Regions from separate parts of the Homo sapiens genome. Here region 2 is linked to region 1. The links come from fine-mapping of genetic effects on gene expression. A gene starts in region 1. The other region holds a variant in brackets. All regions are shown on one strand. Distances are between the middles of the regions. Region 1 holds the start of RETREG3 (reticulophagy regulator family member 3). Region 2 overlaps NAGLU (N-acetyl-alpha-glucosaminidase).

Evidence for each region. PIP is the estimated chance that this variant, and not a neighbour inherited with it, causes the effect.
Region 2: its variant is the best candidate, but not a certain one, in a credible set for the expression of RETREG3 in whole blood (INTERVAL, PIP 0.85).

What each region holds. Positions count from the first base shown.
Region 1 is chr17:42,607,149-42,612,148 of GRCh38, forward strand. It overlaps RETREG3 (reticulophagy regulator family member 3), which reads right to left and starts at 2,226. Exons shown (of 9, transcript NM_178126.4): 1 at 1,938-2,226. The coding sequence starts at 2,176. TUBG1 (tubulin gamma 1) reads left to right here and starts at 2,535. Exons shown (of 11, transcript NM_001070.5): 1 at 2,535-2,638; 2 at 2,960-3,072; 3 at 3,275-3,442; 4 at 4,927-4,995. The coding sequence starts at 2,590. RefSeq lists an enhancer at 2,108-2,217.
Region 2 is chr17:42,543,098-42,548,591 of GRCh38, forward strand. It overlaps NAGLU (N-acetyl-alpha-glucosaminidase), which reads left to right. Exons shown (of 6, transcript NM_000263.4): 6 at 1-1,352. The coding sequence ends at 1,141. It also overlaps the pseudogene HSD17B1P1. Among named protein-coding and RNA genes, the nearest start is that of HSD17B1, 7.1 kb to the right of the region's middle. RefSeq lists a silencer at 5,169-5,418. The variant C/T (reference allele first, on the strand shown) is at 2,678.

The DNA.
Region 1 (5,000 bases):
GTGCTATAGTGAAGATTTCTACAGAGAGCAATGGGAATCAGTACCTAGGGGTCAAGGAAGAAGCACTTGGCTGGGCACGGTGGCTCATGCCTATAATCCCAGCACTCTGGGAGCCCAAGGCAGGAGGATCACCAGAGCCTAGGAGTTCGAGACCAGCCTGGGCAATATAGTGAGACCCTGTCTCCACAAAAAATTTAAAAAATTAGCCAAGCATGATGATGTGCACCTCTGGTCCCAGCTATTGTGGAGGCTGAGGTGGGAAGATTGCTTGAGCCCAGGAAGTGGAAGTTGCAATGAGCCGAGATCATACCACTGCACTCCAGCCTGGGTGATAGAGCAAGACCTTGTCTCAAAAAAAAAAAAAAAAAAAAAAAGGCCAGGCGCAGTGGCTCACGCCTGTAATCCCAGCACTTTGGGAGGCCGAGGCAGGCAGATCACCTGACCTCGGGAGTTCGAGACCAGCCTGACCAACATGGAGAAACCCCATCTCTACTAAAAAAATACAAAATTAGCCGGTTGTGGTGGTTCATGCCTGTAATCCCAGCTACTTGGGGGGCTGAGGCAGGAGAAATGCTTGAATCTGGGAGGCGGAGGTTGCAGTGAGCCGAGATCACGCCATTGCACTCCAGCCTGGGCAATAAGAGTGAAACTCTGTCTTAAAAAAAAAAAAAAGGGAAAAAGCACTACCAAAAATAAATGAAGAACGTGGTAGGAAAAGTTTACCATCGAGTTTGCTAAAGGCTCTGGAAGCCACAAATGCCAGAGACTACTGTGACACCTTTAACTGGGTCTCTTTCAAACTGGGAGAGGATTAGCTTAATAGCTGAACACTGTTTTCGGGTCAATGAACTTGGAATTATTTGTTCTGCTTCAGCTCACTGAAAATCTTTCAGATAAAGGATAATAAATGTTTTGATTTTAAAACAAATTTTAAGGGGAAAGCTATTTTTAGCAAAAACACAATTAAAAAACACACATATTTTGTTGTTTCAGGCTTATCCAGAATAGTCTTAATCCATTCAGCAGCAGAAAGCCCCCTATAAGTCAGTTCCCTTGGAACCTCCTCCATTACAAATAAATCCAAAATTATGGTTGGTAGATCCTATGAAGTCCTAGGTCCACTTCAGGTGATGACAACTGAGAGAAGCAGCAGTTCCATTTTCACAGAGCATGACACACACAAATAAAGCATATTTACAGTGCTACTTTTCCAGCTCAGGAAAACTCACACACAGTATTAGACATCAATTTCCTTGCCTATAAACCATGGCTAAGGATGCCTCTCTAATTCCTTGGAACAGGGAGGAGTTACAATCACAGGTGGCTTTGACACGCGTGTAATCTCCGTCATCATTTCCTAACTGTTCTTTAAAAGCTTGTAATTTTCTTTCAATTTTCAGCTTTGGGGGCTCACACTGACGCTTAGACTTCATAAACTTCCTTCCTAGATATATAACATGCTAATTCATGCGAATCGCTCAAGCTTGTTTTATAATCACACCTATGGATACCTTTGCAAGACTTCACGCCTCTACTCCAACAATAAACTACTAAAACCTCTGGAAACAATCTAGAACTTGCACTTGAGCAGACAAGAGAAAGGAAGTGATGGCTTTAAAGGGACGCAGCTTTGTCGGGCTCAAAAGAGGAGCCCTCGCTCACTCTTGAGCGGCTCAAGATGTTACCAGAAGCTCCCGCCAGATGTGCGGGGCGGGGGTGCGGGCACAGGTAAGGCAGAGAAGATGGGTGGACGGCCCTGGGAAGAACTAGGGTGCCGAAGCCTGCAGGCGGGATGGAGTGGAAGGAGGTGAGGCAAAATTAGGCAAGTACAGGAAGGAGCCAGTGCAGCGAAGAAAACAGGGCAGGCGAGAAGTAGAGCCCTAGAGGAACCAACGAATTCGGGACTCGGAGGGTTTCCGAGGGTCCAGTTCTCTCACCAGAAAGCCGCGTTCAGCCCCAGGCACCACAGAGCGCTCCTAGCTGGCCGCTCCCACACCAGGGCTGCCTGCACCCGACTCAGCAGAGGCTCGTAAGGCCCCAGCACCTCCACCAGGGCCCGCTGCGCCGCCTCAACCTGCTGGTCCCGCTCCCAGGAGCCTGACACATCTCGGCGGCCCCTGAAAGTCGACCCCGAAGCCGGGCCTGGGGTCGTGGGAACCCCTTCGGCCTCAGCCATCTCCCCGCGGCAGCCACAACATCCGGGGCCGTGGCCCGACAAGTCACAATAACAGCAACTGCGCAGATGCGCGATTCGGCGGGGGAGGTGGCTTCGCACCACAGCGCGCTTGCGCGCAGGCCCAAGCAGGCGCCCACCCAGAGGGGAGGGAGGACGCCGTACCCCGCCCTCACTGAGGCGCGGAGCCGGATCCGGAGGCGCCGAGCCGCATCCGGAGCCGCGCACGCGCAATCTGCATGAACGAAGGCCAGTGCTTAAAGACGTGCCATTCATTGCCAGAACTCGATTCTCATTGGAGCGGAGGAAGTTCGTGGGTGGAGCTGGTTGTTTGGCGCCTGCGTCTTGCGGCGAGCGGGCTGGCGTGCGGCGCCGTTGCGGGCGGGAGCGGCTGCAACGCCGGTGCCTGAGGAGCGATGCCGAGGGAAATCATCACCCTACAGTTGGGCCAGTGCGGCAATCAGAGTGAGCGAAACTCCGGCCCCTCAGCTAGCCAGGTTCCTTAGGGTCAATGGGATCTCGCTGTGGGATCCTGGACTCCATCTGTCCTTGCCAGAATCGTAGTTCTCTGAAAGGCGAGACATCCCTGACCCAGTGTCCACTTGCCCAACCCCGAGGGGCCCTCCCCTGCCCAGTCCCTGGCGTACAGTCCTTTCCTCAGACACGGGAGAGTCCTGCGGCTTGACTTCTTATCCCTGGACGCAGGCGCCCAGTCCCCCGGCTCCTGATTGGAACCTGCCCGGACCTAGATATCTTCTTTCTCCCCTGCCCGCCCCTTCCCCCCAGTTGGGTTCGAGTTCTGGAAACAGCTGTGCGCCGAGCATGGTATCAGCCCCGAGGGCATCGTGGAGGAGTTCGCCACCGAGGGCACTGACCGCAAGGACGTCTTTTTCTACCAGGTGCCCCCAGCGACTTGGCCGGGGGCGGCAGTTGCCCAAGGGGGCGGAAGGGAAGGGAGTGGCCTGGTACTGGGAACCCCGCTGGGCAGTAGGGCCAGGCGGCTGGCTTGAGGAGGGAGGGCCGGAGGGAGCCAGAGTTGGGAGGACTTCGGACTTGGGCCGCCCTAGCTGATTGGGCCCCCTCCTGGACTCCCCTTGACAGGCAGACGATGAGCACTACATCCCCCGGGCCGTGCTGCTGGACTTGGAACCCCGGGTGATCCACTCCATCCTCAACTCCCCCTATGCCAAGCTCTACAACCCAGAGAACATCTACCTGTCGGAACATGGAGGAGGAGCTGGCAACAACTGGGCCAGCGGATTCTCCCAGGTCGTTTCCTATTCCCTGGCAGGGCCCACAACTCGCTGGGTAGGGACAGGCTCTATGACGTCCCGAAGAGAGGGAAAACCGGATCAGGGATGTATGAATGCTGGAGGGAGAGACCTGGCTGCAGGGAGTGGACTATGTAATATTGTCAAGCGCCTACACTAGCTAATGCAGTGTGCCAGGTCATTCTAAGTGCTTTACATATATTAATTTTTCTAAATCTCCCAACAACCCTAGAAGTAAGTACTACAGGTCCACAGTCCCTTATCTGCCTTTCCAGGATCCAGAAAGCCATGAAACCAAAGGACATTTCATAACTAGTTTATCAGCAAAAACAAATTTCAATGAAGACAGGCTGTTTTATAGTTTCTTTTTTTTAATTTTTATTTATTTATTTTTTTTGAGACGGAGTCTCACTCTGTCGCCCAGGCTGGAGTGCAGTGGCACGCTCTCAGCTCACTGCAACCTCTGCTGCCCGGGTTCAAGCGATTCTCCTGCCTCAGCCTCCCGAGTAGCTGGGATTACAGGTGCTTGCCATCACGCCTGGCTAATTTTTGTATTTTTAGTAGAGACGGGGTTTTACTGTGTTAGCCAGGGTGGTCTTGATCTCCTGACCTCGTGATCCACCTGCCTCGGCCTCCCAAAGTGCTGGGATTGCAGGCGTGAACCGCCATGCCCGGCCCTATAGTTTCTATCCAACTTACTGTCATTAGTGATGCCTTTTATTACAGAAATACTAATATATTTGATTAACGTGCTTCTGATTAAATAAAAATTCCCACTGGAATTTTATTTAATATATAGTATATATACCATAATACCTTTCTAAAATCTGAAATATTTTGAATTCCAAAACATAACTGGCCCCAACACTGTTAGATAAGGGTATATGGACCTGTATTATTACCTTCATTGTACAGATGAGGAAACTGAGGCATAGAGCAATTAAATAAGCTGCCCAGAGCTACATAGAAGTAGAGTTAATGGGCCAGGCGTGGTGGCTCACGCCTGTAATCCTAGCACTTTGGGAGGCCAAGGCAGGCAGATCACCTGAGGTCAGGAGTTCAAGACCAGCCTAGCCAACATGGTGAAACTCTGATTCTACTAAAAATACAAAAAATAGCTGGGCATGGTGGCATGCGCCTATAATCCCAGCTACTGGGGAGGCTGAGGCAGGAGAATCGCTTGAACCCAGGAGACGGAGGTTGCCATGAGCCAAGATCGCGCCACTGCACTCCAGCCTGGGAGAAAGAGAGAGACTCCATCGCAAAAAAAAATAGAGCTAATGTATGAACCCAGGTAGTCTGGGTGTAGAGTGCTTTCTTGTAACCACTGCACCGTACTGCCTCTCAATGTAGATAAAAGCAGGTAGCTATGCTCCATAAAAGGACTTCTGGGTGTTATAAGGAGAATTGAGGGTGGCTTTTCTGAGGTCAGAGACCTCCCATGGTTCTGTCCCACTCTGACCCTCCCCTATGTCTGTACAGGGAGAAAAGATCCATGAGGACATTTTTGACATCATAGACCGGGAGGCAGATGGTAGTGACAGTCTAGAGGTAAG
Region 2 (5,494 bases), 64 kb before region 1:
CCAGATCAGGGCTGTGCTGGGAGCTGTGCCCCGTGGCCGCCTCCTGGTTCTGGACCTGTTTGCTGAGAGCCAGCCTGTGTATACCCGCACTGCCTCCTTCCAGGGCCAGCCCTTCATCTGGTGCATGCTGCACAACTTTGGGGGAAACCATGGTCTTTTTGGAGCCCTAGAGGCTGTGAACGGAGGCCCAGAAGCTGCCCGCCTCTTCCCCAACTCCACCATGGTAGGCACGGGCATGGCCCCCGAGGGCATCAGCCAGAACGAAGTGGTCTATTCCCTCATGGCTGAGCTGGGCTGGCGAAAGGACCCAGTGCCAGATTTGGCAGCCTGGGTGACCAGCTTTGCCGCCCGGCGGTATGGGGTCTCCCACCCGGACGCAGGGGCAGCGTGGAGGCTACTGCTCCGGAGTGTGTACAACTGCTCCGGGGAGGCCTGCAGGGGCCACAATCGTAGCCCGCTGGTCAGGCGGCCGTCCCTACAGATGAATACCAGCATCTGGTACAACCGATCTGATGTGTTTGAGGCCTGGCGGCTGCTGCTCACATCTGCTCCCTCCCTGGCCACCAGCCCCGCCTTCCGCTACGACCTGCTGGACCTCACTCGGCAGGCAGTGCAGGAGCTGGTCAGCTTGTACTATGAGGAGGCAAGAAGCGCCTACCTGAGCAAGGAGCTGGCCTCCCTGTTGAGGGCTGGAGGCGTCCTGGCCTATGAGCTGCTGCCGGCACTGGACGAGGTGCTGGCTAGTGACAGCCGCTTCTTGCTGGGCAGCTGGCTAGAGCAGGCCCGAGCAGCGGCAGTCAGTGAGGCCGAGGCCGATTTCTACGAGCAGAACAGCCGCTACCAGCTGACCTTGTGGGGGCCAGAAGGCAACATCCTGGACTATGCCAACAAGCAGCTGGCGGGGTTGGTGGCCAACTACTACACCCCTCGCTGGCGGCTTTTCCTGGAGGCGCTGGTTGACAGTGTGGCCCAGGGCATCCCTTTCCAACAGCACCAGTTTGACAAAAATGTCTTCCAACTGGAGCAGGCCTTCGTTCTCAGCAAGCAGAGGTACCCCAGCCAGCCGCGAGGAGACACTGTGGACCTGGCCAAGAAGATCTTCCTCAAATATTACCCCCGCTGGGTGGCCGGCTCTTGGTGATAGATTCGCCACCACTGGGCCTTGTTTTCCGCTAATTCCAGGGCAGATTCCAGGGCCCAGAGCTGGACAGACATCACAGGATAACCCAGGCCTGGGAGGAGGCCCCACGGCCTGCTGGTGGGGTCTGACCTGGGGGGATTGGAGGGAAATGACCTGCCCTCCACCACCACCCAAAGTGTGGGATTAAAGTACTGTTTTCTTTCCACTTAAACTGATGAGTCCCCTGGGTCTGTCAAAATGAGAAGGTCACTGCTGCCACGCTTGGGAGGACTCAGGGCTATAGCATGGCCCTGGGGTGGGACCTGTTCTCCCATCCCTTGCCTCACGTCCCTGTTTTTGTTTGTTTGTTTGTTTGTGACGGAGCCTTGGTCTGTTGCCCAGGCTTGAGTACAATGGCACAGTCTCGGCTCACTGCAACCTCCGCCTCCTGGGTTCAAGCAATTCTTGTGCCTCAGCCTCCCCGGTAGCTGGGACTATAGGCATGCACCACCACGCCAGGCTAATTTTTTTTTTTCCAAGATGGAGTCTTGCTCTGTCGCCCAGGTTGGAGTTTAGTGGCACCATATTGGTTTACTGCAACCTCTGCCTCCCGGGTTCAAGCAATTCTCCTGCCTCAGTCTACCAGGGAGTTAGGACTACGGGCCTGTGCCATCACGCCCGGCTAATTTTTGTATTTTTCATAGAGATAAGGTTTCACCATGTTGGCCAGGCTGGTCTTTAACTCCTGAACTCAAGTGATCCACCTGCCTCGGCCTTCCAAAGTGCTGGGATTACAGGAGTGAGCCACCGTGCCCGGCCACGTCTCTCTTTTTAACACTAATGTTACCCTGACCTTTGAACGTAGAATGCCCTTCTGTTGCAGGAAAACCTCTTTTCAAACCATGTTTGTCCTTTGCTGGCATGCCACAGCAACAGTCACCAACACAGAAGACTTCTGTGACCAAATATTTGGAGGATTTTCCCCACACACACCAAGCAGCAGACATCAGCTGGGTGTCCTCCAATTCAGTTCCAATGTAATCAACCAGAGACAGCATCAGATCCCACAGGGTTAGGGTGCAGATCCATGAGACCACCCCCTCCTTCCCAACGGTTACAAGTCCTGATCCCTGGAACTTCTGACTAACTGGCTTCAAGTTGGAGTTCCCATGACCCCCTTCCCCTCTTTGGAGTCAACTCATTTGCGACAGTGACCCACGAAACACAGGGAAACCCTTATTATGTTTATTGCTTTATTACAGAGGAAAAAAATTTTTTTCTTTCTTTTTTGAGACAGGGTCTCACTCTGTCATCCAGAATGACTGCAGTGGCAGGATCTGGCTCCGTCACCCAGGCTGGAGTGCAGTGGCATGATCTCGGCTCACTACAGCCTCCATCCCCCCAAACCCCACGCCTCAGCGCCCCACCCCGCAAGTGGCTGGGACTCTAAGCATACACCACCACACCCAGCTAATTTTTTTGTAGTTTTTGCAAAGACGGGGTCTCATTCTGTTGCCCTGGCTGGTCTTGAACTCCTGAGCTCCAGCAATCCCCTTG[C/T]CTTGGCCTCCCAAAGTGCTGGGATTACAGGCATCAGCCACCGTGCCCAACCTCAAAGGATATTTTAAAGGATAGAAATAAACAGCCATATGAAGAGATACAGACAGGGCGGTCTGGAAGGGCCCAGAGCAGGAGCTTCTATCTCCATAGAGTTGGGGTTACATCACCCTCCAGGCACATGGATGAGTTCTTCACCTTCTGTCAGCCTCCACACGTTCAGCTCTCAGAAGCTTCCCGAACCCTGTCCTTTGGGCCTTTTATGGAGAACTCCATTGGCTGTCCATGACTGAAGCATGGACAACTGTGATAATGTGATTGGGCAAAAAGGGTCTGATCTAAGCCCAGCAAGGCCAGTCCAGATTCTTTGGGCCTTTGTGCAGCATTCCTTTCTCCAGGGTATGGGGCAAGGACCCACTCTGGAATGAGGATCCTACAACCCACAATCAGATTAGAATCCTGCCTTGGGCAGCTGAAAAGAGGACAGGAGAAGGTCAAAGAGAGGAAAGGCTGTTTTTTGAGGCCTGAGGCGCCCCAACATGACAACGAAAGACTGTAACCATGGTCATGTGAGTTATGAGCTAGGAACCCTGGACGAAACCAACACATATACAATCATCTCCCACCTCCCAACACCTTTACTTTCACAGCCTCTGCAGCAAACTGCGGTCACTATAATCGCTCCTGTGGCACAGAGGCATACCCAGGGGAATCTGCCCAGGGGGCCACTCTGTGCCCACGTGGGAACCCACATCTGCTTGTAAAGCCTCCCCTCCCTCTGACCAGAAACGAGGACAGTTTGTTGTTCCAAGCAGTGGGCTCATGTCTGTTTTGGCTCAGAACAGGGTGGGGAGAGCGGGCCAGGGACCCGCAGGAGGGCTTATCCTTGAGATTGCGTGGGAGACACAACAAGGGGTGGGGGCCCGCAGGCGGGGCGGGGCGAAGCAGGTGATATCCAGCCCAGAGCCCCAGCCTCTCCCCACAGTCTCACCATGGCCTGCACCGTGGTGCTCATCACCGGCTGTTCCTCAGGTATTGGCCTGCACTTGGCAATACATCTGGCTTTGGACCCATCCCAGAGCTTCAAAGGTATAGATAGGTAGGGACAGGGAGGGAGAGAAGGGAAAAGCCCTTGGAGGCCAGAAGAGAAGTCAGATCTTCCTCCTCTCCCAAAACCTCCAGTGTATGCCACGTTGAGGGACCTGAAAACACAGGGCCGGCTGTGGGAGGCGGCCCGGGCCCTGGCATGCCCTCAGGGATCCCTGGAGAGGTTGCAGCTGGATGTAAGGAACTCAAGCTCCCTGGCCGCTGCCCGGGAACGCGTGACCGAGGGCCGTGTGGATGTGCTGGGTGAGCCTCCTGGAAGCATATGGGCTCCTAGGAGCCTTCTCCGCCCTGCGTTGAAACCAACATGTCCCCAGGCCCCTGGAGCATGAGGGGACAGGCCGTGCTGAGGGTGATGCTGAGGCGGGCTGGTTGGGCCTCTGTCCCCGCAGTGTGTGACACAGGCCTGGGCCTGCTGGGGCCGCTGGGGGAGGACGCTGTGGCCTCTGTACTGGATGTGAATGTAGTAGGTACTGTGCGGGTGCTGCAGGACTTCCTGCCAGACATGAAGCGGCCGGGTTCGGGACGCGTGTTGGTGACTGGGAGCATGGGAGGATTGATGGGTGAGTGGCAGGGACCGGGCCCGGAGCTCCAGATTCTTTGTGTGCAGAGCTGAGCCTTGAAGGCAGGCTCCTTAGGGGGTGGGGTGCAATCAGCTTGGAGGGGCACTGCCTGCCGGGGGATGACCCCCTGGCCGCTGCGCCTCAGGAACCTCATCTTCCCACCCAAGGGCTGCCTTTCAATGACGTTTATTGCGCCAGCAAGTTCGCGCTCGAAGGCTTATGCGAGAGTCTGGCGGTTCTGCTGCTGCCCTTTGGGGTCCAGTGAGTCAACACCCCCGTCTCCTCAACCCTCTTAACTCTGACCTAGAGATGCCGAGCACCCTGTCCTGCGGAAGCCGCTCTGGTCTCTGCCCGGCTTACATTTGCTGCGTGCCAGGCACTTAGGCTGGAGCATTGGCACGCATTGTGCCACTTGCTGACCTGGCTGCTGAAGTGTTGGTATTGTTATGGGGAAGCTCCAGCCAAGAGAGGTTAGGTGACTGGCCCAAGGTCATGCAGCGGCCGGGGATCCCGCCAGGTTCGAATTCTGACACCAGGGCTACCTGGCAGCCTCAGATGGGTTTGGGAGGGCTGTCGAGCAATAACCCGCTATTCAAATGTTCTGGTTATCCCCAGCGCTCTTTCCACCTTCGGGACGCAGCGGTGCTGTTCTGGGTCGTGGCCAGGGCCGGGGTCGGGGCCGGTGCTGGGGCAGGAGATGGGACTTGGCGCCTGGGTCGCCTCCGTCCCTGCCCACTTGCGGCTCTCGGGCCAGCAGCGTGAGCCTGATCGAGTGCGGCCCTGTGGACACCGCCTTCATGCAGAAGGTGTTGGGCGGTCCCGACCAGGTGATGGACCGCACGAACACCCGGACCTTCCGCCTCTTGCACTAATACCTCCACCACAGCAAGGAGATCTACCGCGAGGAGGCGCAGCACCCTGAGGAGGTGGTGAAGGTGAGCGGGGGGCGGGACTCCGGGAGCGGGGGCGGTGCGTCGTCCTGCGCGCAGCCCGGGCCAGAGCTCCTCTCCCGCCGCCGCAGGTCTTCCTCACCGCTATGCGCGCCCCGAAGCCGACCCTGCGCTACTTCACAACCAGGCGCTTCCTGCACCAGCTGCTGATGCGCCTGGACGACCCCTTTGGCTTCGACTACGCCGCCGCCATGCACCGGGAC